Linked DNA regions of Homo sapiens: regions 2 and 3 are each linked to region 1. The links come from fine-mapping of genetic effects on gene expression. A gene starts in region 1. Each other region holds a variant in brackets. All regions are shown on one strand. Distances are from middle to middle. Region 1 holds the start of TMEM171 (transmembrane protein 171). Region 2 has its middle 16 kb from the start of TMEM174. Region 3 overlaps TNPO1-DT (TNPO1 divergent transcript).

Evidence for each region.
Region 2: its variant is fine-mapped to the expression of TMEM171 in pancreatic islets (PISA, PIP 0.95).
Region 3: its variant is fine-mapped to the expression of TMEM171 in whole blood (TOPMed, PIP above 0.99).

Annotation. Positions count from the first base shown.
Region 1 is chr5:73,116,597-73,124,777 of GRCh38, forward strand. It overlaps TMEM171 (transmembrane protein 171), which reads left to right and starts at 3,979. Exons shown (of 4, transcript NM_173490.8): 1 at 3,979-4,100; 2 at 6,710-7,417. The coding sequence starts at 6,778. It overlaps LOC124901001, which reads right to left and starts at 3,895. Exons shown (of 2, transcript XM_047417978.1): 1 at 1-3,895. The coding sequence starts at 3,833. The coding sequence ends at 3,132. RefSeq lists an enhancer at 2,818-3,369.
Region 2 is chr5:73,153,596-73,161,776 of GRCh38, forward strand. It overlaps the pseudogene LOC101060067. Among named protein-coding and RNA genes, the nearest start is that of TMEM174, 16 kb to the right of the region's middle. RefSeq lists enhancers at 1,654-2,154, 2,155-2,655. The variant C/T (reference allele first, on the strand shown) is at 4,536.
Region 3 is chr5:72,656,765-72,664,945 of GRCh38, forward strand. The region is part of intron 7 of TNPO1-DT (TNPO1 divergent transcript); the gene reads right to left. Among named protein-coding and RNA genes, the nearest start is that of ZNF366, 150 kb to the left of the region's middle. The variant G/A (reference allele first, on the strand shown) is at 4,727.

The DNA of each region.
Region 1 (8,181 bases):
TGTTACTCTTCCAGAGAGGGAGCCCAGCCTCCTCAATTTTGTAATGTCACTCACAGACCACAGGAAAGTATTCCTTCCGAATTCCTGAACTCCAAGCCTCCATATTCAATTGCCTACTCAGCTTCTCTACTCGGATGTCTAATGGACAAAATTAACATGTCCCCAAATGGACTCTGAAGCTCCTCCTCTCAAACTTGTCCCACTCTTAGGATTCCCCATCTTGCTCATGCCAGAACCATTCTTCCACTTGCTCAGATCCAAAACCTTGGAATCAAAACCCACATGTGGTTCATGGAAAATCCCATTGACTCTATCTTCAAGATATATCCAAAGTCTCATCCCTTTCATCACCTTCATACACAAGCTACAGACATAACTCCTGGGTTGTTACCACAGCCTCCTAACTGGCCTCTTCCCATCCATCCTGGCTCCTCCTTGGGCTATTCTTACTGCAACAGCCACCAATTTCTTTTTTAAAAGAAATCAGATCACATCACTGTCAAAGCTCATCACATCAGCTCAAAAACCATTCAAAGGCTTCCCACCTACTTAAAGGCCCTGCACAACCTGGTGCCCTTGGCCCTGCACATGCCTTTCCTCTCTGACCTCCTCTCCTACTCTCCCCCTTGCTCACCAACTGCAGCCACCCTGGCCTCTTGCTCTCCTTTGAATATGCTAATATGTGTGTTCCTACCTCAGGGCCTTTGCACCTGTGGTTACTTCTGCCTGAAGCACTCTTCCCTACTTCCCACAAAAAATCACGAACTATGCTTACAAATTCTTACTCTTCCCTACAAGAGGTGGCACCTAATCCCATTCCCCTTGACTTTGTGACTCAATTCTAAGGACCAGAATAAAGAGAAGTGATGGTATGGAAGTGCAGAGCCTCGTCAGAAAAGGCACCACAGCTTCCCCTTTGTTTGCTCTCCCTTGGATCACTCACGTGAGGGGAGGCTGGGTGGAGAAATCCACATAGTGAGGAACTGAGGCCTCCTGCCAATAGCCCTGTGAATGTGCCACCTTGGCAGCAGATCCTCCAGCCCCAGTCCAGCCTTCAGATGACCACAGCCCTGGCCAACTGCTAGACTGCAGCCTCTGAGAGGCTCAGCCAGAAGTACCCAGCTAAGCCACTTGCAGTTTCTGACCCTGATCAGAAACCCTGAGAATACATTTTTGCTGTTTCAAACTTCAAAGTTTTGGGGTAAGTTGTTATGCAATAATAGATCATTGATACACTTGCTTCCTCATTCCCTTCAAGTTTTTGCTGCAATCTCACCTTCTCAGAGATGCCTTCCTTAACTCCCCTATTTAAAATGGGGTGCTCCCCAGTCCCCATCTGTGATTTATTGTTCTCCCTGGCACTCAATCACTTTCTAATTCTCTGTATAACTTACATATTTTATTGCCTTTCTCCTCAATAAAATACAAGTTCCGTGTTTTATTGGTAGTTGGTAAATCTGTGCTGGCTAAATACATGAACACATGCCTCTGCTTTATGCTTCTACAGTCACTGAATTCGAGGTTTTTAATCTTGTTCTGATGCTGTTTTTCTAAGGATTCGGTCTGGCTTTTATCTTTTTCACTACCACACAGGCCAGGGAAGACCACTAGATAGTGACCAGGCCACGCAGCTTCTCTCCTAAGGCTAGGTGGGCTACAAAGATAAGTACCTCAAAGGCTGGTGGGTATGTCTTTCATACATAATCGATGATCAATTTCCAAGGAGTTTAATTTAGTCAAACAGGCTCTCATAGACACAAACAGTGAGAACAGCAGATATACCAAGTGGAGGCTAATCTGATTGTCCTTGGTGCCAGGATATTCAAGTCTGTCATGGGTGGTGAGCCTGCAGTCATGTGGCACCAGAGGGGCAGCTGTATCAACAGGCCCCTTGCAGGCCTGCACATGACATGGCCAGAGATTCAGTTTCAAATAAGGGGGAAGGGAAGAATGAGTAGGGAAAGGACAAGGAAACCCTTTTGCACAATGAAGAGTTGTTCACAGGCCTGTGTCAGAGGGGACAAATCCTATAATGAGGGCCTGAGTTCTTAGAAAGCCAGTGCCTGCTGTTGTACAATCCACTCTTGGGTATCTGCCCATTCGCTGGACATGCTTTGGTGCCCTTCCAGAAGGTGGTATACCTTGACACTTGGACCAGGAAGGATATCTCCACCCCAAACATAGATTACTGCAATGTCCTTGGGACACAGTGCCTGTATTGTTATAATAATCTAAACGTGCTTGGCATCACAAGGCCATGAGGGCGTTTTCTGGGTTCACAGCATGGTGTGTTCTCTGAGTGACAGGTGTGCTGCGGGAGAAACACTGAATGGTCAGCGCATCTGCATCTGGCTCAGGCCTTCTCTGCATGTCAACCAGCTGCAGAGGTTACTTTACCTCTGTCAGCCTGGACCTCAGTTTCCTCAACTGACAAATGACTGTTTTTCTCAGTCTCCTGTCCCCTGCTGCCTCCAACCTTTTCTGAACTGCTGGAGAGATGTAGCAAAGAACCACAAAGCAAGGGGTCGTGAGTGTTGGCATTGTTCATTTCGACAGTAATCAGGGCTGTTAGTTATGGCGGGGATTTACAGAGGTCGGGCACCCTGGCTATGAAAAAGTCCACCTTTGGCCACCCAGGCAAGTGCCCCACCAAATTCCAATGGCAAGAACTTGTCCGTTCTGCCTCCCTGGTGAACCCTAAAGCCCAGGTAACCCCCTCCCCTCTTTACCTCTCTGACTGGTTCTTTAAGTCTCTTCTCACCTCTGATGATTAGCTAAGCCTGCTTCATACTTTACCTTCAGTGAGCATGACCAGGAATCTCTTGTTGTATCAGGTAGGTAAAGTGCTTGCTTGCACATTGAAAAGTTTCATCCATTGGCCTTAACTCTAGATAGGGTTTCAGGCAAGGCAGACAGGAAGCTGAGAAGAGAAGGCAGGGCTGGGAAGTCCCCGTGGCTCAGGGCACCTCTGCGCTTGGGCAGAGAACCCTTGACTCACCTTCCACCGTGCCCTGACCCCTGGTGTGGAAACTAGCACAGTTGGATCCGTATCACGTGTCACGGGGCTGGTTACAAATAGCACAGGGATTGGCAAACTCATCCCGAAACTCCCGGTTCAAGGGCAGGGAAAGTTACCAGTTTAATTCCGGCAGATCATTAGTGGTGGAGAACCAGGAAGGGGGTTCTATCGCAAAGGAGGGCTGTGCGCAGACACGTGGGTGCGGGAGGGGCAGAGCTGGTCCGGCGCGGGGCTTGCCGCGTCTCGGCCTCAGTCTCGGAGCCAGGACCTCAGGCCTGAATGGCTGGGTGTGGAGGGCCCTTGTCTCACATTCTGTAGAGCGCACGTCGTCCCGTGACCTGGTGGCTCCATATTCGATGGGGAGCTCGCAGCGAGTCGCTTCCCTCTGTAACCCCACTCCAGGTCTCCAGAGCAGTAGGAGGGCCACAGGGCTGCTGGGTGTAGTCGCCCCGGACCTCGCGGTGGCCAAGGCCAAGGCGGCCGGGGCACGGTACCCTGTTCGGCCTGGGCCGCAACCACGAAGGAGGCGGTGGAGGCGGGGGCCGGCGCTTCCTCCGCGCCCCCCACGCCGCCGCTCTCTCGCGCCCCTATAGAACTGGGCCTCAGGCCTCGAGGGGGAGCGGGCCTCGGCGGGCGGGGCGCACAGTTCCGCCAGCCGGCGGGGGCATCTCAACTCGCCGGCCCCGCCAGGTGTGCGGGCCAGGCAGCCGTGGAAGGTGCCCATTTCTCCCAGATTCCTCGCGCGCACGGCCACGAGCGCGGAGGCTGCCAAACCCGCCAGCCCTGGGTTCCGAAGCCGCCCCTGGCTCTCCATTCCCTCGCGGGCGCGCCCCGGGCCCCCAGTGGCGGCCAGCTCCCACCGGTCGCTCCTGCACTGCCCTGCCCTGCCCTCCCCGGGCCGCCGCGCCCGCGCAGCACCGCCTCCTTCTCTAAATACTGCCGGGTCCGCCCTCCGCACCAGGACGCGCGGTGGGTAGGGTGCAGGGCGGCCGGCGCAGCCGAGGCCGCGTGCGGAGGCGGACGCCGCGCCCAGCCAGTGCCCACAGCAGCGCGGTCAGCCAGGCGCCGGACCCAGCTTCAGGTAAGCTGCCCCGGCCCGCGCGCCTGCGCCGGCGGCGGCGGGTCGGGCGCTGAGCTGTGCGGCCAGGCTGGGCGCGGGGAGCCGCGGCAGCGCGGAGGCGCTGGGTATCCGAGCCCAACCTGCGTCCCTGCGAGCCCCTCCGGCTGTTGCTTGCGCTCGGGCTCCCTAAAAGCCGCAAACCGATTTCGCACAGAAGGCATTTGCCTCTCGTTTCGTTCCCCAAACGCACCATAGCTTTGGACGTGGAGAGGTGCTGTGAATTTTGGAAATGTCTTTTGGAAAACCAATAGGAGTGTTGGAGAGGGGAGTTTGGCTTTGGGGAGTTTAAGTGTAGGGTGGTGTTTGGAAAAGGTTTCATTGCGAGTGAATGTGGGTGTCTTTGTATCCGTTTGTGAGTGCATCTGTGGGAGAAGGAGAGAGAGAGAGTATTTCCACACTATTATGGATCAGAGGTGAACACTCAGCCAGGTGCTCCGTCCACTAGTCCACGGACAAGAAACTACAGATTCAGTTTTGGGCTTCTATTTACTGGTGTTTGGGAATTTGCCTTAAGACAGTTGAAGCCTTGTGACTCACTGCAAAGTTGACTATACTGGGAATAAATGAATTCCTGATAGGACTTTGCAGCCGAGAATCACCCTTCTCTTTCTTGTCTCCGAAACCGCAAAAGAGATTGCATGATTCAGGAAAAAAATTAAAACAACAACAATAACAAAAAACCAATATATATAGGTTTCAGGACTCTCCATCGTTTCATTCCACTGAGAGTTTTGGAATGTACTCCCTGTAGGATAAATGAGGACTACTGTATACTCAATATGAAATTCTTATTCACTGCAGGATGTTACTGACTTAATAAAAAATGGGAAGATTAAAAAATTAGTGCAATGCTTTGTCTCAGCTTAACTGCATCTGTATATCAAGTTTTTCCAAGTTTGAAATGAAAGCTTTTTTCCCTCCTATATTTCCTTTTTTTCTCCAACTTCCTTCTGATTCTATCATACTTTTTCCTGGAAAAGTTTTTCCCAGTGTAAGATTGCCTGTTTGCTTTCTTTACCTAAACTGACCTTCCCTCAGTGTGATTTTGGTTTGTCAAGATCATCTTGGGCTTAGGGCCTCAGTCTTGAGTTCCTTCATGGGACCATGGATGTGAGCGGCACAAAATATTTTAAAAGTTTTCTTTCCTTGGGCAGGTGAAAATAGTCTTCACGATTTTGGATTGTCTTTGCAATTGCAGGACCTGACTTACGGGGTCCTGGTAAAATATCCCATTCATTGGAGTAAAATAAGATAACGAGATAATTAGGTCAGCTCTGTGTAAGCTAGACAACTCTTTAACAACCACTTGGCATATTTAATATATTATACCCCTGAAGTACAGGGCTTGGGTGATTTTCTGGAAGGTGCTTTCTCACTTGATTCCACTTATACTATTCTTTCAAAGCCAAGTTCCCCCCTTCCACCCATTTTGTGCTTTATAACTAGCAGTTTTATTGGCTGCTTGTTTTTTAACTGAGTCTCAACCTCTTTGTGGAAGTAGGTGACACCATGGAGGAGGGTGAGTGAGAGGCCACACCAGCCTTTGGGTACCTGTCCACTCTGAAAATTGAGCTCCTGTTGACCTGCTGTGCAACACTTTCCAGGGTCATCCCAGATCCAAGCAACTGGGTCACCAGTCTGTGCTTGTTGAGAACCCAAGAACCATTTTGTTTTGTTTTGTTTTGTTTTTGGCAGGGTCTCACTCTGTTGCCCAGGCTGGAGAGTAGTGGCGTGATCTTGGCTCACTGCAACCTCCAGCTCCTGGGCTCAAGCAATCCTCCCACCTCAGCCTACCAAGTAGCTGGGACCACAGGCACCATGCCTGGCTAAAGTTTGTATTTTTAGCAGAGATGGGGTTTTGCTATGTCACCCAGGCTGGTCTCGAACTCCTGAGCTCAAGCAATCTGCCTGCCTCTGCCTCCCAAAGTGCTGGGATTACAGGCGCAAGCCACCACGCCTGGCCTCAAGAACCACATTTTGATAGAATCAACTTAAAAGTCCACCAAACCCACTGTGTTCCTGAACAGACTTCTTATTCTATTGAAATTGCTGAAATTGGGTCTTTTGTAGATGTAGCCTTAGAATAAAACATGAAATGGAAAGCTGCTGTAGTCTAAAACAGGAAATGGAAAGTTAGTTACTGAACTGACTTGAAAATGCTGAGAGCAGCTATGATGAAAAGTGGGGCATTTGCAATCAGAAAGAATCCCTGTGGTTCTTCCCTCATTCACCAGTGCTTTTTTCCCCAGGGAAATGAGTTTGTAAGACTCAGAAAAGGAAATGCCACACCCAGCTACTTTTGTTCTTTCAGTTTTTAAAAAAGATACCCTTAGATGTGTAGTAATTTAATTTCCTGTTTTGAATATCTTGTAAAATTACATATTTAGGAGTTTCTGAATGCTAGTTTATCTGACTCATAAACCAACTCATTGTTCTACAGCTTATCAGTTGTATAAAGTTCTACCCCCAAGGCCTCATTGTGGTGTGATTTCAGAAATGATCAGCAAAAAACCAGGGTGGTTCTGGAACACCTGTGCCCACGTTAATTTGGTGTTTGGTTGTGTTTGCAGAGCTGCTGAAATCTTGGAGGGAAGAAAACACATCCCACCCTGCCTCCGGGAAGGGGCCTCTCCTGGACATGTCTCCTGCAGCTGCTGCTGAGCCAGATGGGGACCAGCAGGACAGACACGTCAGCAAACTCATCTTCTGCTTCTTTGTCTTCGGCGCCGTCTTGTTGTGTGTGGGAGTCCTGCTCTCCATCTTTGGGTTCCAGGCATGCCAATATAAGCCCCTCCCAGACTGCCCCATGGTGCTCAAGGTGGCGGGGCCTGCATGTGCCGTGGTTGGGCTTGGGGCTGTGATCCTGGCCCGCTCCCGGGCGCAACTTCAGCTCCGTGCAGGGCTGCAGAGAGGTCAGCAGATGGACCCCGACCGAGCCTTCATCTGTGGAGAGAGCCGCCAGTTTGCCCAGTGCCTTATCTTTGGGTTTCTGTTCTTGACAAGCGGCATGCTCATCAGCGTCCTGGGCATTTGGGTCCCTGGATGTGGCTCCAACTGGGCGCAGGAACCGCTAAACGAGACAGACACTGGCGACTCAGAGCCCCGGATGTGTGGGTTCCTTTCTCTGCAGATCATGGGGCCCTTGATTGTGCTTGTGGGATTGTGTTTCTTCGTGGTTGCCCATGTTAAGAAGAGAAACACGCTGAATGCTGGCCAGGATGCCTCTGAGAGAGAAGAGGGACAGATCCAGATTATGGAGCCTGTCCAGGTCACTGTAGGTGGGTTGCTGTTATTTGCGTTCTTGCTTCTATCACAGTGGCTTTGCAGCAGGGTTTCACCAGCTGCTCTTGGTTCTCGTCTGGATTCTCTTTCTCAATTCTTCCATCTCTCACACATGTGTGTGCACACGCACACACCCCCATCATGTGTACATACACAATGGTGCTGCTGTGGGAAGCCCCGTAGGAACCTTGTATACATCTTTTCCCCCCCAGCAACTCTTTCCTACTTTGCAAAGCATTGGGATATTAAGTAGTGACCTTGACTGAGGTCACAGAGCAAATTAAGAGGAAAGTGAGAAGAACCATGAGGACAGCCTTGGAGCCTTCTGCCACCTTAGGGACTCACTAAGTGACCCTGTTACCCCTGTTATTCTCACACCAAAACCACATAGCATTTTAGTTGTGGGACACTTGGTTTCTCCTCCCAGGCTGTCACTAGCTGGCTGTCCTTGTAAGTCCTTAACCTCTCCTGCCTTGGTTTATGTCTCTATAAAATGAGCAGTGCCTCTCTAAGATTCCTGCAGCACTAACATTCTAGGATTCTGGATCTGTCTGAGTCCAGCAGTCTCCAGGTGTTTTGAGGGGCCTCTGCACTGTCTCTGTGTTGTCCTTCTTTTTTTGTGACATCATCCGTGGCTGCAGGGCTGAGGCAAAGCTTGGAAGCAGCGGGATGAACCAAGATGGAATATGACAGCACCTTTCTCCCGTGGAATGCCTACAAGTTCCTTTTGGGTCCCCCGGGTTCTACAGAAGAGATGGAG
Region 2 (8,181 bases), 37 kb after region 1:
TTCCTGTTCTGGTTGACGTAATTTGGACCTCAACTCCAGAGTAGCCATCCTCAGCCAGCTCTCGAGTGAGAACTTTTTCAGTTCCACTTTGAGGATGCCATCAGTGACAAACTTCCTCTTCTTGGAGATCTGCACCCCCATCTTGCCACCGTGTGCCTCTGAAATGAAGGGCCAATGCGAGAGTTTTATCCTCTCTGCAGCAGAGTCCTTCTCTTGCGGGCAGGTATCTGCTTGTCTTTAAACAAAGATAGACCCTTTTCTCCTCTCTTGGTCAACCAGTGTCCTCCACTTCTCGAAGTTTCTGCTCTTGAGTTTTGTTTATATAGGACCCGTATGGAAGCTCCTTAGTGCCCCTTGCCCTCTTTCTACACCACGGCACTTCTATTGCAGCCAACAGTCTCGGTCTGCTAGATTCCCTGTTTCTCACTGAGAATCTATTTTTGAAGCTGGCCTTACAGGTCCTAAGTCCCTCCCTGCCAGGATGACCAGCTTGTCCCAGGTGGCTCAGAACTTTTCTAGTTTCAGCACAGAGAGTTTTGCATCCTGGGACCCCCCTCAGTCCAAGGCAAACCAGGATGCTTGGTGACCCCCACCCTGTCTCTGGAAGGGCTGCCCTTGAATCAGTTTCCCACCTCAGGCCCATCGGCCAAGAGAAGGTGATCCGGGTCACCTGGTGTCCAACAAGGCCTCAGTCTTTCAGTAGGGGTGGGTGGCTTCTCTGGGAGAGGGACCATGAATTGGGCCAGCAATGATCAACCTCTCCAGTTAAAACTATACTTAGATGAATTACTCATTAGAAGGGAAGGAAGTGAGGCATTATAAGTATACGTGTAGCAGTTTGATGCAGTAGAAAGCACATTGAATTGGAAGTCAAAATGCCTGGTTTCTGCCTCTGAACAGCAATAAAATCCCAGCATCAAACAGTTCATCTTTCTGAGCCTCAGTTTCTCCATCTGTAAAATGAAAGGTTTAATTTAGGGCTTGCTTCCTTTTTAACTTATGTTAGAGTTACTCCATATTCTTCAAGACATAATCTGCTATCATCATTATTAAATTCTTCCCTTTCCTCTCCTCCCTTCTTCCCTGTTCCCCTTCCTCTCCCTTCCTCCCTTCCCCTTCCTTCTTTCCTTCCTTCCTTCCTTCCTTCCTTCCTTCCTTCCTTCCTTCCCTCCTTCCTCCCTTCCTCTCTCCCTCCCTCCTTCTCCATTCCCAGCACTAATTCCTTTCTTCCCAACAGGCCACTACATCAATGTGAAAGATATTTATCCTTGAATAGGTATGTAGTTCTATAAGATATGATTATTATTTTGTGTATTTATTTAAAATTTACATATATTACATTATGTTATAGTCCTCATTTGCTTCCTAACGTTTCTTACTCAGCACCATTTAAAAATATATCCGTGGTGCTGGCTGTTGGTCTTTAAGACTCCTTCCAGAGTGGCACTTTATGAACCTTGTTTAGTATTGCAGAACGCTCTGTTATCCAAAGTTCTTCTACTTTGAATCAAATTATTGGTGGGCTTTTTAGAGGGGACCAAAGGGACAAGAAAGTATTACTCCAATGTTGGACAACTTTGGTCTGCATGAAAGGACCTAAATGGATTAATATATAGAGGACATTAAAGAGGAATAAATGAAGTACTGGGTGGCAAGAACCGTTGTGAATTCATCTTTGGCCCTTAATCTTGAAACTATGAAGCCATCTATGAAGCCAAAACTATGAAGCCGAATTCACATGCACGATTCCTGGAACAGCTTACCTCCTATGTGGAGCTGGCAGACATTCTCCAAGAGGAGGCAGGAAGAGTTCTCAGGCTCTCACTCACATATCATCAAGCATAGAAAAACTGCTTAAGACCTCAGCCAGAGATTGAACCCAAATCGGAAGACCTGTCCCCGGGGGGCCAATCTCTGTGGCTCAGAGGAGGCAAAGGAGACCCAGCCGCATCCCTCCCAGAGCGTTCTGTGGTTGTTAGCAGACGGGCTAGTGCCTCGCAGGTTGAGCAGCTCTCTTGGTGGCATTGAGGCTGAGGGAGCCATGTGGAGCCTGGGAATGGGCTGCGGGTGGGGAGCAGCTGTGGAATAGCCCCTCCTGGCTCTGCCTGCCTATGGCTGGGAGAACAGTTTCCATTTCAGGCAGCAGCAATTCACACTGGGTGGTCTCTGCCTTCCCTCCCTCAGTGCCTCAGTGCCACAGGCAACTGCCAGCAGGCTGAGAAAAGCACAGCTCCCCTTGGAGGACAGAGGCCTGTGCGAGGAGGCTGTTCTCTCCCACACTTCTGGCTCACAGGGTCTTCATCTCCACTCAGGCCTCTCAGCAAGCTCTGGAAAGACCTCTCGCAGCTCCGCTGGTGAGGCCTGTGAGCCAGGGCAGGGGCGGGGGTTGCTTTATGTTCCCCCGGTGACACACTTCCCGACCTACCTCAACTTTACAGAGGCACATGTTGACTCTATTCCAGGCCTTAACTATTTCTGTTCCTTTGAACATGTAAAACAAACAAAAACAACAATGAAACACAAAAACCAATAATAACAAATATAATAAAAACTCTGCAAATGCCCCTGAGGGTTTCCAGCCCCGCTCTCCACATCTCAGCCGACTTGGTGTTGAGATGCGTGCTTTCTGCCTCGGGTTGTATGATCTCTGAGGAGGAGATCATGGTGGCTGTGGGATTATATACACACGCTTTACCAAGATGTCTTCCTTTGCAGTGACAGGACTTAAGCTGACTCTAGGAATCAGAGAAGGTTCACTTTTGCCTTCAGGCCTAGGAGCAGCTCATCCTCAGTCCCCAGGCAGTGCCTCCCGGGGCTGCCTTCAGGGCCTCCTGACAAGGGCCTGGGTGCTTTACCCCCACCATAGACTCAAGCACTCAAGGAGAAAGTTTCCAGAAACTGAACAGGATGAAGTAATTATAGCCGAAAGTCACTGAACTTACTACGCTATGTGTTCTCTGTATGATCTCACTTGATCCTGATAACCTTATGATGTAGGTCCCATCATTCATAAATGAGGAAACTGAGGCTCAGTGAGGCTAAGCAGCTGGCCCATTTACATAGCTAGTGATTGGAGAAGCCAGAATTTGATTGTAGAAAAGACTCCAAAGCCTGTACTCTTAACCGTGACATGCATGGAAGCGCGCGCACACACACACACACACACACACACAATTGACATATATGTGCATTCTTTGGTCTCTACAGTGTAATCTTTTTTGTAATATTCACAAATCATACGTTGTTAGAAATGGAAGTCATTTTAGAGATTACCTATCTGACTCCTCCCCAACTTTTACTTCCATAGAAAAGGAAACTGGGGACCTACCTTAGAGAAATAGTTTTCAAACCTGAGCAAGCATCAGAATCACCCAAGGGACTGGCTAAAACACAGACCTCTGGCCCCATCTCCAGAGTTTCTAATTCTGTAGGTCGAGGTGGGGCCCAAAATATATATTTCTAACAAGTTCCCAGGTGCTGCTGCTGCTGGTTCTGGGCCCCCACTTGGAGAACCGCTGCAGTAGAGTAAATTGGACATGTGAAGGCCTGCAAGACCCACTGCAGTGTTGTTACTTGAACGTGCTTAGCAATGTTGATGAGGCCTGGACAAACATGTCCCCTGGTCACTCTTAGCAGACTCATTCGTCCTTTACTAACTCTCTTTGGGTCTCAGCAACAGAAACAGAATGTGGCAGGCAGAATTCTAAAAATGCTCCCCGCTAAAAAAAAAAAAATCCCACATCTTTATTCCTCAAAGCCTGAGAACATGTGGCATCGTTCCTATGATTGTGTTATGTTATACGGCACAGTGGACCCACAAAAAGGGAGTATCTGGGTGGGTGTAATTTAATCACATGGCTCCTTAAAACCGGATAACTTTCCATGGCTGTTGTGGCAGAAGAGTAGGGCAGAAAGGGGGAAATCAGAGAGACTTGAAGCTCAAGAGCTTGGCTAGTCTTGCAGCACTATTGCTGTTTTGAAGATGGAGCGGCCCAAGTGAGAAGGAATGTGGGGGGCTTCTAGGAGCAGAAAGGAATTTCTGGCAGGGAATTGGAACCTCAGTCTTATGTTGCTTAGGACCAAATTCGGCCAACAGCCTGAATGAGCTTGGGAACAGATTATTTCCTGAGCCTCCAGATAATACAGAGGGATGCCTGACCTACAGAACCGTGAACGAATAAATGAATGTAGTTTTAAGCCTCTAAGTGTGTGGTTATTCTGAAGTGGAAACTAACATACAAGTACATAAATTCCTGAGCTCAGAAGCAAGCCCACTGCAGACCTACTCCATCCAGAAGCTTCTCACACCAAGAGCTGGGCCTCTGGGAGGCTCACCTTATCATTTGCTGGAAATGGCAGTGGCTGTGACTTAAATTCCAGCCCCATCAAGGTAGTTTTCAGTTCAGTTGGTGTCTGAGTGCATTTTCTGCTGCTATAAAGGAATACATGAGGCTGAGTCATTTATAAAGAGAAGTTTATTTGGCTTATAATTTTGATGACTGGGCATCTGCCTCTGGTGAGGGCCTCAGGCTGCT[C/T]TCACTCATGATGGAAGACGGGGAGCTCATGTGTGCAGAGATCACATGGCAGGAGGGGAAGCAAGAAAAACAGTGGGGAGGCACCAGGCTCTTTTAACAACCAGCTTTACAGGGAACTAATAGGGTGAGAAGTCACCCCCAAAAAAGGGCATTATTCTATTCATCAGGGATCCCCTCATGACCCAAACACTTCCCATCAGGCCAATTTCCAACAGTAGGGATCAAAGCTCAACATGAGTTTTGGAGGAGACAAACATTCAAATCATCGCAGCTGGGGAAAAAAATCTAAAGATTATCAGGACACCCAGGAAACTGCCTACCCAACCAACCTCAGCAGACACCAGCCTCGCTCGAGAACACAGGCAGATCACTTGCCTGCCAGTGCCTGCCCTTCATGGATGAGCAATTTTAAAAACACTTTAGGAAAACAGATTGTCCTCCTGCACTACCACTAAATCAAATAGCCTACTTTCCTGTTCTGAGATTAATCATCTGTAAAACAGAGGCCTTGCTTCTCACCAGGATATCAGAAAGTTCAAGCAAGAATACGGTGTAAAGACACAGAATCCATACTCCATACAGCAATGATCGCCACCGCCACCTACAATATTCTTGTTACTGTTTTGTTTTGTTTTTTTGAGATAGGGTCTCACTCTGTCACCCAGGCTGGAGGGTGGTGGCATGATCATAGCTCATTGACACCTCGATCTCTCAGGCTCAAGTGATTCTCCACCTTACCTCTCAAGTAGCTGAGACTACAGGCTGCACCACCATGCCTGGCTAATTTTTATATATTTTTTTTTGTAGAGGTGGGGTTTTGCCATGTCCTCAGGCTGGTCTTGAACTCCTGGGCTCAAGCGATCCACTTGCTTCAGCCTCCCAAATTATTGGGATCACAGGTGTGAACCACCACCCCCAGGCTCTTGTTATTCTTGAAATAAAATAAAATCTGAAGAATGAGGGGACAGTTTTGATTTTCAACAAGATCCATCCTGTAGCTAATAATAGTATAGTCATGATTCAACCACCCTGTCATTTTATTGTAAAAGTTGAATATAACCTTGAGGCTGCCATGGTCCAACACAATTCAAGTAAATATAACAGGTGAGTAGATAATTCCTATAATTGAGATTTCCCCCAAATATTCCCCCTAAATGACTTATAGACACCTGATGCTCATTTAAGTAGAGAATCTATTCTTAGGGTCGAGGTTCCGCGTCTGCTCCATCCAGGTCCTTACTGTGCAAGGATCCTCTTGCCGCATGTCCTTGAGGGGGTGGGGCCAAGTGGCATAGGTCACCCCATCCTCGTTGCTACTCCCTGCAGGTCTGCAACTGTGGCCCTCTGAAGGTACAGAGCTGCGCAGGGTGTGCATTTCTGACCGTAGTCACCCCTTGCCATGACATCTGCCTACTTTCACTGATCTAGCCCTAAAGACTGGAGGAATATCATGGAGGATGTTCCCGCCTTGTGCTGGACACCAGGACAGGTCTAGCACCTGGGTTTCTCAGAAGGCTTCCCAGCAGACTATGCATCCTGACCCTGTGTTCCTCTCACATCCACGTGGACCCATGAACCACCTTCCTCTGGAGTCTGATTTTGTCATCCGGACCTTTTCTGATTTTGTTGATCATCTCAGGATTGCCAGGTAGTGGTGGCCACTGACAGGGTCCTACAGTGCAGAGAAGAATGTCCAGGTCCCTTCTTGTGGCTTCTCTCTTTTCTCCCCAACCCCTCTTTCCTGAACCCCCACCTCCTGTGGTGCACCAGCGTAGGGGAGGCCACATGGTGCCATTTTTACCTAAATGTTTAGGAAGACATTCTTTTGAATTTTGGAAATCTTGAAGGGTTTTGAGACATGTATTTGCAAGTAAAACATGCAGGTTCCTGTTTTTCCATGTCACCCAAGCTTGTGGCTTTGTTTTGTTTTATTTTGCTTTTTATGTGCTATAAGTTGTTGAAATATTTTGGGGCTTTTTTGTTATCAGAGAACCTGGTAGTGTTCTGTCTGTAGTCTGATCCAAGTGAATATGGCCAATAGATTACCCTGCAGGATCACAGCACAAGCAGACAGATCTTTGAAACATGGGTTTGCCACTCTACCAAACTTTTGAAAAAAGACATTTAATCACACACACACAGCTTCCACAAAGCAATTTACTTCCAACCACAATGTGTTCAATCAAACGATTTGTTCAGAACTATATGACCACGCTTAGTTTCACTTCCCACCGCAGGTCTCTGATAACCTCTGAAAACTCTGTTTTTGTGGTTATACTGTCATTCATTATTCATCTTTTTAAACTATAATCATTTCAAAATTACAATTTTTAACGGGGAATGTGGATTGGTGGTTAAAAACAGGAAGCTTGATGTCTAAGTCTGAAAAGCAGTGAAAATATGTAAGAAACTCAGAAAAATTCAGAACCTGCCATTATTGTTGATTGTGACAGAGTGTTACCACCTGAGGACTCACTGAAAACTTGCCAGTAAAGAAGGATGAGGTTACTAACCAGCCACAAGTGAATGGGTATATAAACATGGTTGATCTAAAATCTTGGACTATATTTGGATGTTCACATGGACGAAAATTCAAGCAGTATCACAGACTGAACAGTGAAAAGTAAATCTCCCTCTGCAGAAGATTGTATTTTCCAAAGAGAAAGATGGTAATATTTCCTCTCCCAAGTGTTCTTCTGCAATGTGACCTTGACATTCCAACTATAGAAAGGAAGAATCGAATTCCCTTCCCTTTGTATCTGGGTTGGTTTAGTGACTTGCTTGAGCAATAGAATGAAATGAGAGTGATATTCTGGGACTGCCAAAGCCAGGTCATAAGACGCCTCACAGCTTCCACCTGGGACCCCAGGAGTACTTGCTCCTAAGACACTTCCTCTTGAAACCCAGTCCCCTGGCCGGGAGAAACCACATGGAAAGACACAGGTGAGTGCTCTGGTTGATGAGCCAGCGAAGCTCCTAGCATCAGCTGTCAGTCACATGAGTGAACCATCTTGATGTCCCACTCAGGTGAGCTTCTAGGTTCTGGCAGCCCTTGCTGACTGCCTGACAAAACTCAGCCAAGCCACATAACTGTTTTAAGCCACAAAATTGGGAGTGGATTGTTATATAGCAATAGATAACTGGAACACCCTCTCAGTTCTTCTGTCAAATTTATTTCATATTCTTTCAATGACATTTTATGCACAGACATTCAATGATGTGTATGTCTTTCCCCTTGCAAATAATGGCATAATAAGCACACTACAGTACTCACTCTGCTTTCTTTTTCAACCAATAACACATCTTAGAGATTATTCCATACCTGTGTATGTACAGCTGACTTGCTCTTTAACAGTGGAAGAGAACCTTATATTTTACCACCATAAGTTATTTAGCCAGTCCACTACTGATGGACATGTAGGGTTCCCCATCCCTGTACTTTGTTAGTACAGATAGTGATTCATTGTCTATTCTGCTAAAGTATCCTTTTGTAAGGTGTCTATTGTAAGTATGTAGGTTACATTCCTAGAAGATGTTTGTAGCTTCTTTAATTCTGTTGTACGTACATTTTGAATTTTAGTAAATATTGCCAAGCCCCCCAAAAAGAGGTTGTGTCAAGTTATACTCTTCCCCACTCAGATTTAAA
Region 3 (8,181 bases), 460 kb before region 1:
ATCTCGCACTCACCTGACCTAAGTGAGTTTTTTGATTTTCTGAGATCATCTTTTAAATTGTGAATTTACTATAAATTTACAGTTTGGGGCAAGGATTCAGAAAGCAAGGGATTCCAGAGAAAGCTGACCTACTTTACAATGAATCCATCTGTGCACTCTGCCTATTTGAACACTCATTTGGTGAACATTTCTTGAACATCCACCATGTGCCAGGCACTGTTTGCCCCAGCGGGGATGGCTCAGCTTGACAACCCTCTTCAAGCCTTTGAAAAGAAGATTATTCAGAATTTCCAATGCCCCTTTGGTATCTGGTGTATTGAGTATCTCTGCCTGGTGATATGGGGAATATAAAGCAATTCAGTTGAGCAACTTTAGTTCAAAGGCTGTGATTTATTATCCCTTATTCTGAGAACCTCATATGTTGCCTGGCATATGATAGCTTGGTAGGATGGATGAGCAGATAGATGGATGCATAGAGGGAGGCATGAATGGGTGCATGGATGCATGGATGGATGGATGAAAGCATGGATGCATGGATGAATGCATGGATGGATGGATGGATGGATGGATGGATGGATAGATGGATGGATGGAAGGATGAATGGATGGATGTTGTGGATAACATGAGTCTTAGTTTGGGTTACCCAGAAGCTGATCCTGAGACAAGGATTTGAGTGAAAGTCATTTATTTGAGATGTGAGATGGGTATGGGAAGGAAGCAAATAAATTATGTGTCATCAAGCAGGTTACCACTATGGGTGAGCAGGGCTCAATCCCACCAGGGATTTCTGGAGACTTTATAGAACATGGCTTAGAGTCATCCCACCCAAGGTGCAAGGAAGTGGGGTTTTGAACCTCTAAGTTTCATCTAGCATTGGCTAAGGACTACTCCAAGGAGCATTAACTCCCAGCTTGGAAGACTTTTGACTAAGAGGAAACCTTCAGGCAGAGAGGGGCAGTGCTTGCAATAGGACAGCTGAAGAGACATGGATGGAACACTAACAGTGTCTGGTACAACAGTCTCAGAATCAGCGTCAGCGCTCATTTCACTCACTCTACCTTCAGTGTGCAGGTTCCTTTCCTAAAAATAGAGGACAGTCACTCACTCAGTCTCTGAGGGGGCACTCTGAGGAATCTCCATCCCTTCCTCGTGTTCTCTCCCCAATGCCCCAACTGCAGTGAGAAACTTGTAAAGTGCCCTAACTCTGGGAGGATAATTGTGTCCCTCTGTCAGCTCTGTTAGGGTGATAAGCCTGTTTCTCAGCACCCTTGGTGTATTGCCTGGCTTAGCATCAAAACACTGACCTGGACACATCATACAATCTTGACGGGGTGTTAGGGAGGAACACTTACTCCCCAGTCTTCATGGCTTCATGTCTATTGAGGGGTGTCCATCAGAGTAGTGCTCCTGGCCTGACTAACCTGGTTGATGAACATGGAAGAATAATCTGCTGTGAACATTTGAGTCCTTCCCTCCTCTCTCTTGTTCCCTGGAGCCTACTAGCGTGTAGGTAGCACACATTACCTGCTCCTCCAAGGTGGGGAGGCCTGTGGTTTTCCAGCACAGCTGGGAGCTGGGTAAACAGGTCTGCCTACATCTGGGTAGAATATTAGAATTACTGAACCACCTAGGCCACATTCCTTACATAGCATTGGCAATAACAAATGTGATATATCTATCTGCATGCAACTGATCTAGATCTATCTCTCAGTGGATTCCAATCTGAGCGGCATTATTGACCTTCCTAAAACTCCAACAGGGACCTTATCCTAGTATCTGCGGCCATTAGAATGCAATATAGCATTCAGTGTGCTACACCAAAAATGGCTCCAAGATCCAGAAAAAAAGGGAAATGTTACATATTGTTCCCTCTTTTTGAATATTCACAATGCTCATTAGTGTATTAAAGGCTCTCAGAAACCCATCAGTTATAAATAAACAAACAAAAATCTTGCCAACCTTTTTAAATAAGTAATGTATTTGACCTTGAAACTCTTTTTTTTTTCAATAGCCTCTATAACATTTCAGGAGGCAAGCTTCCACAGAAAATACTTTAGAAAAGTTTGCATATGCTGTTCCTTCTCCCGGAACGCCCTCTCCTGCTCTCCTCCATGGATCTCTCATGTTCAGCTTGCTGGATACACCAAGAATGCAAGGCCCTGACAACTCTTTACTTGGGCCATTTCCCAAGATTGCATTTGCAGTGAGCAGCCTTGAGGGATGAGGTCATGTCTCCCTCCAGGACAAGAGGAGGCTCACTATAAAAGAGGTGTGATTCCTACAGCACTACTAGAGTCCAACATCACCTTACCCCAGGTTCCAAGGACCTTGTTCGAAGGTAAGACTCATGCCTAGTACCACACTATTATACCAGTTTTCATTCCAGGTTCACTCTCATTGGGATGATCTGTATCATTCAGAGAGATACTCCACTGCAAAAATATGAGACATGGCTTGGAGAAAGGAACTGCCCCTGCAGGACGCACCCAGAGAGGTAAATGCTCACAGCTGTCTTGTGGTGAAGCCAACAACAAAGTGACAGCAAAGCCACAGACAGACAGAGTTTCTCTCCTATTCTCCTTTTTGTTGTGTAGTGAGTGCTGTGGTGGGCCCTTTTGTTTCCTTCCACTGGGCCCCCCAGTACCTCTTCAAGACTGAAACAATCATTTGGCCAGCTGCTGGGAGTATTAGAAGCTCCCAGCTCCCAGCTGAGTCCTTCTACAGGAATTGCCCTTCTCTGAATCACAGGCTCCTGAGTAGAGGGAGGTGGACCCATATCCAAAGACTGGTCAATGGCCAGCCCTTTTGCTGCCAAGTGGCACAACCCTGAAGAGTCTCTCCGACTCCCAAGCTCCTACGGAATCAGCACCCACAAGGCAGTTCACCTCTTCCCTCTGCCCAGTCCCGCCGCCTTCGCTCCTGTAAGCTGCCTGCACACTGGTCTCCATCGCAGAGTCTGGTTCCTAGGGAACCCAACCTCACACACACTCTGGGAGTTTCGTTCTCTTCTACCAGAGTGAGGCAATGAAAATCAGCACAAAGAATTCTGGCCAGTACTGTGGGTGAGGAATCCATTTCAGGAGGAGCCACCAGAGCGCAAGCACCAGGTCACAGCAACAGAGTCCAAGGGATCCACAGGCCAGAGAGTGTAAACGCTTGTAACTGCTGACCAAAGGCTCAAGTATGTGGTCTAGTGTTATCACTTGTTACCTCTGAGGAGTACAGAGTTGTGGTTCTCAACCTTGGCTGCAAAATAGAATAACCAACGGTGTTGCTAAAATTAGTGATGCCTGGGCCTCATCTCAAACCAACTGAATCTGAGCCTCCTGAGCCTGAGCCTGGCCATCAGTATTTGGTAATCACTTGATTTCTCTGGGCCTTGCTTCTCTCATCTGTTAAAGAGGCAATAGTAGTTAGCTCCCTACAGGGCTGACGGGCAGGTGCTACCTGGTTATCATTCCGTTAAGTACCTGGTGACTTATCAGGCATTCAATACTGAATATCTTCCCCACCTTCCTACTTAACTGCATGGTTAGAAAAATGCAGATGTTCTAAATAAGGATGCCAAAGCACAAATATTGCATGTTATTGGTTGTCTTCAAATCAAGAGGCATCTATTTTACCATCCCTTAAGACAAAGGTCTTCCTAGACATTGGCCAAGATCGTGGACAGATTCAATGTGCCCTTGGGCATATTTACATAAAGTTTCTTGAAATATACCTTCTTTTTGACACATAGTCATATGAAAACTGTACAAGTTTTCTTTTTAAACAGTAAAATAATTTGTTCAAAGCCACTTACCTATTTTGCAACAGGATAGCTTGCTTTTAAGACTGTTTGACTTCATATCCCATCACTGCTTCTTAGCTGTGTGACTTTGGGCAGACCATTTAAACACCCTTTGCCTCAGTTTCCCCACCTACAAAATGGCAATAATAATAACACCTACCTCATAGGAGTGTTGAGCTGATTAAATGATATTTTGCTTGTTAAGTATTTATCAGAGAGGCTGGCAAAGAGTAAGTACTCAGTGAATGCCAGCTATTTTTATAATTTCTTGGAGTGAGTGAAAATATGTGCCAGGTGAATTTTAAAATTTTAATTCCATTAGCATTATTAAAAATACAACCATATTAGGGTTGCAGATTGAATAAAACCACATGGATTTCTCATAAAGGTTTTGAGAATTTGTGAGCACTCTACTAATAAAAAAAGATGAATTGGGCATATCATCTTAAGCCCAGAAAAAGCTGAAATAAAACACTTAATTGTGTGAATTTTATTCCATGGTGTCAAACCTTAGAGAAACCGGGATTTAAAGGTATTTCAAATTTACCTCTTTTACAGTAAGCATATGAGGAAAAGGCTAGTTTCATCAGCTTCCCTTGGTAGGTATTGAGAAAGATTAATGAATGTCTTGAGTTTGAACATTAAGTTCTTATGTGTTAGATTTCTATAGCCTTCACTTCTTGATGTTTAGGGAAAAACAATTAAATATGTCTCCGCATTTTGCTCCATACATATTAGATAAATCAACTGGAAATTGTATTCAGCTACTAGTAACAGAGACTTAAATATTGGCTTAAATAAAGCAAGGATTTTTTCCCCTTATAAAATAAGAGCAGTGCAGGTATGATGACTCCAAAGCACCATCAGGCACCTAGGCTCTTTCCAGCTCCAGGCTTCACCATCCCTAGGCTGTGGCCCTTGTCCTCAGGCTTATAG[G/A]ATGACTGCTGGAGCTCAAGCTCTCACTTGAGTGTTCTAGGAACAGACAAGGGAGACACAAGGAAAGGCAGTGGGACCTGCTGACTGAGTCATCCTCCTTTAAAAAGCTTTCCCTGTAAGCCCCACTCAGTGACTTCCAGTTACATATTACTCTGCCCACCCACCGCCCTCATCCCATGACACATACACACCTCTGCAAAGAAGGCTGGGAAAAATAATGTTTCAGTGGACAGCTTGCCAAATCCTAGAATACAGGGATTCCGTACTAAAAAGGAAAGGAAGGATTATACTGGTTAGAGACCTAAAATTTTTGCAACCGTAAGTTCTTAATAAATTGTTGTTTACAAAAAAGAAGAAAAAAAGGAGGAGGAGGAAGAAAAGAAACGACCTGCTAATTTATTCATTATTGTGTCCCTAGGACCTAGCTCAGTACCTGGCACACAGTAAGAGCTGAGTAAATATTTATTTAATGATTGAACTAAAGAATGAGGTATGGATATAGAATAAAGGATTGATTTTACAGGCTCACATGAAAACCAGTCTCTTGAATCCAGATACTTAGCCTTTAAAGAATTATTCTAGCAACAATACAGGGTACTGTAATTATCCTCATTTGATACATGAGGCTAAAAGGGCTTAATAACATGCCCAGGGTGAGACATCCTCTTCCCACTGCCCTCCACAGACCCAGGCCAGCATAGCCAATGCCTCTGCCTTGATGAGCATGAGGGAATGGTCCTAGATGGATTATCTAATGTCCTTCCTTTTTTACAGATGAGAAAACTAGATGCCCACAGAAGTTAAGAATCTTGTCCAAAGTCACGTAGCTCAGAGAAGAAAGTGATTATTAGAATCAGGTATATCAACCCCCAGTCTGTGCTGCATGGGCCCCGAGTTCCCATTGGCACCAACCTCTCAAGAAATTGGTGTGATTGCCTGGAAACAGACTTTGATGAAATAACTGTGAGCTGCTCAAGATATTTTCCACCTTCCCTGGCCAACATATTCTACTCCCTTGGAAGCCACCCCAGCATTCATTGTTGAGGGTAGAGTGTCAGGTTGCAGGCTGCAGATTTTAGTAGCATTGGAGAGAGAGGCAGCATTAATTAAAAAGCAGAGGGAAAAGCCATCACCAAAATTGCCACCCACTCCAGGACAGTTGCCTCTAGGAGCAAACGCCTTAGCACCAGCCCTGGGATGGAAGTTGTGAGCAATAGTAGAGTGACTGACCATCCTGGTTTGCCCAAGACTGTCCTGGCTTTAGCACGGAAAAGTCCTGCATCCCAAGAAACCACTCAGAACCTGTCAAACAGGGCCAGTTGGTACCTCCAACATATTTCTGTTGTTGCTCTTGGGTTATACATTCAGAGACTTTCAATGGAACTTTGGAAAAGTGGGGAACAGCAAGGAACCACAAGAGGCAGGTCCAGCATGTTGGGTCCAACCCAGCACAGAGGCATTTGTTGAGTACCAAATTGATGAGAGGCAGAGAGCCAGGTCCTCCCTGGACATGGAGCCATCATTGCTAGTGTTTTCTGGGCACTCACCCAGTGCTGAGTGGAAGGGCTTCATGTGGATGAGTTCGTTGATCCTCACAACACCCCTAGAAGGCAGATCCTATTGTTCTCCCATTCACAGAAAGGAATCTGAAGCACGAGGAGGTGAAGGAATGCGCCCAAAGTTAAAAGCTGTCAGGCAGCAGAGGTCGGGTGCAGACTGGCCGACTCCAGGGTCTGCGTGCTCCCTTCTCATTGCACTGCCCCATACAGGAAGAGAAACATCACCTCTTCACTCAAGAAGTGTACAACATGGGAGACAGGGTGAGGTAAGTGCGCAGATCCCTTATGGAGTAATATCAATGCCACCGTGGCTGACATTCCCTGAGCAGTTGCTGTGGGCCAGGCCTCTGCTCAGCTTCTACGTAAAGTGTCCATTCTCATCCTCATTATGATGAGTGTGGTACTATTAGCATCTCCATTGTATGACAATCGGACTGTGGCTAAAAGAGGTGAAGCATTTTACCCAGCATCTCACAAGTGGTGAAGCTGGGATTCAAATCAAGAAGTCTAATCCCATGGCAGGGCAGAACTGTACCTTGCTTAGGAGCTCTGGGTGTTCTCCCAGGCAGGTTAGGTGAGGGCCAGGTGAGAGCTACTAACAGACTGCCCTAGAGATTTAGCCATTTCTGCCTTTTTGTTCATTTGCACTAAGTGTCATTCTCTAGTCTCAAGCCTTGGGCTGTGTTCTGCTAGCAGCCCCCGAGCTGGTGGTGGCCACCATCATTTTGCAAGCCAGTGAACCAAAAACCACTCCGAGAGCTCCACAACGCAACACAGAAGGCTGAATCCTGGGACAGACGCCACAGCACAGTGCTGTTTTGGAAGGCAGCTTTCTGCTCCCAGCCCCAGCCTACCTTTCCATTGCTGCTGTTTTCTTCCTGCTCCAGAGAAGGGCGAAAGCACATTATCTACCTACATAGAGGAACTATGGAAGCCCTGCCAGGCCCTGTCTCATCCCAGAGCTTGAAGACTTGGGTTATGATCACTGCAGAACCAAAAGGCATTATTAATATGGATGTATTCCAGAAGTGACCAGTTTAAAAATCATTCAAGAGAGCATATGCATGAGACCATGCGCTGCTGTTATGCCTGCAAAGCCCTCTTTGGTAACAACAGCTCTGAGAGCTCTGACCTCCCACCTAAGAACCAGTGGCCACAGAAAACCTTTCTGCAAGAATCCCTGCTCCTTTTCCAGCTTGTCTGGAGTGAGAGAGTAGCTGAGGCTCCTGGACAGCAAGTTGCCTCTAAGAGGGGCCACTGCATCCTGTCATAAAGAATGGATTAGGCTGGGAGGCCGGGTGCGGTGGCTCATGCCTGTAATCCCAGCACTTTGGAGGCTGAGGCGGGTGGATCACAAGGTCAGGAGATCGAGACCATCCTGGCTAACATGGTGAAACCCTGTCTCTACTAAAAATACAAAAAATTAGCCGGGCGTGGTGGCGGGTGCCTATAGTCCCAGCTATCCCAGCTACTCGGGAGACTGAGGCAGGAGAATGGCATGAACCCTGGAGGTGGAGCTTGCAGTGAGCCCAGATCGCGCCACTGCACTCCAGCTTGGGCGACAGAGCAAGACTCCATCTCAAAAAAAAAAAAAAAAAAAAAGAATGGACTAGGCTGGGGGGATAAGCTGGCTCTTTAGTAAACAGAATGAACCCTGCTGCTTCTCCCACAACCAAAGGGAAAAGTGAGCCCCAAAACAGAGCGGAACGTTACTTCTCTAAGCAAAAGACAAAGGCACCCTCCTGGGTGAGTATCAAAATATTTAAATCTGCTAAGACCACGAAGGGCCCTGACCTAGTGTGTATTGCAATGAGTTGGAGAATCTGGTAGAGAGTTAGTAATAACTGCACCAATCAGGCTGAGAACACTGAAGCTATATGATGGTGATTATTAAAA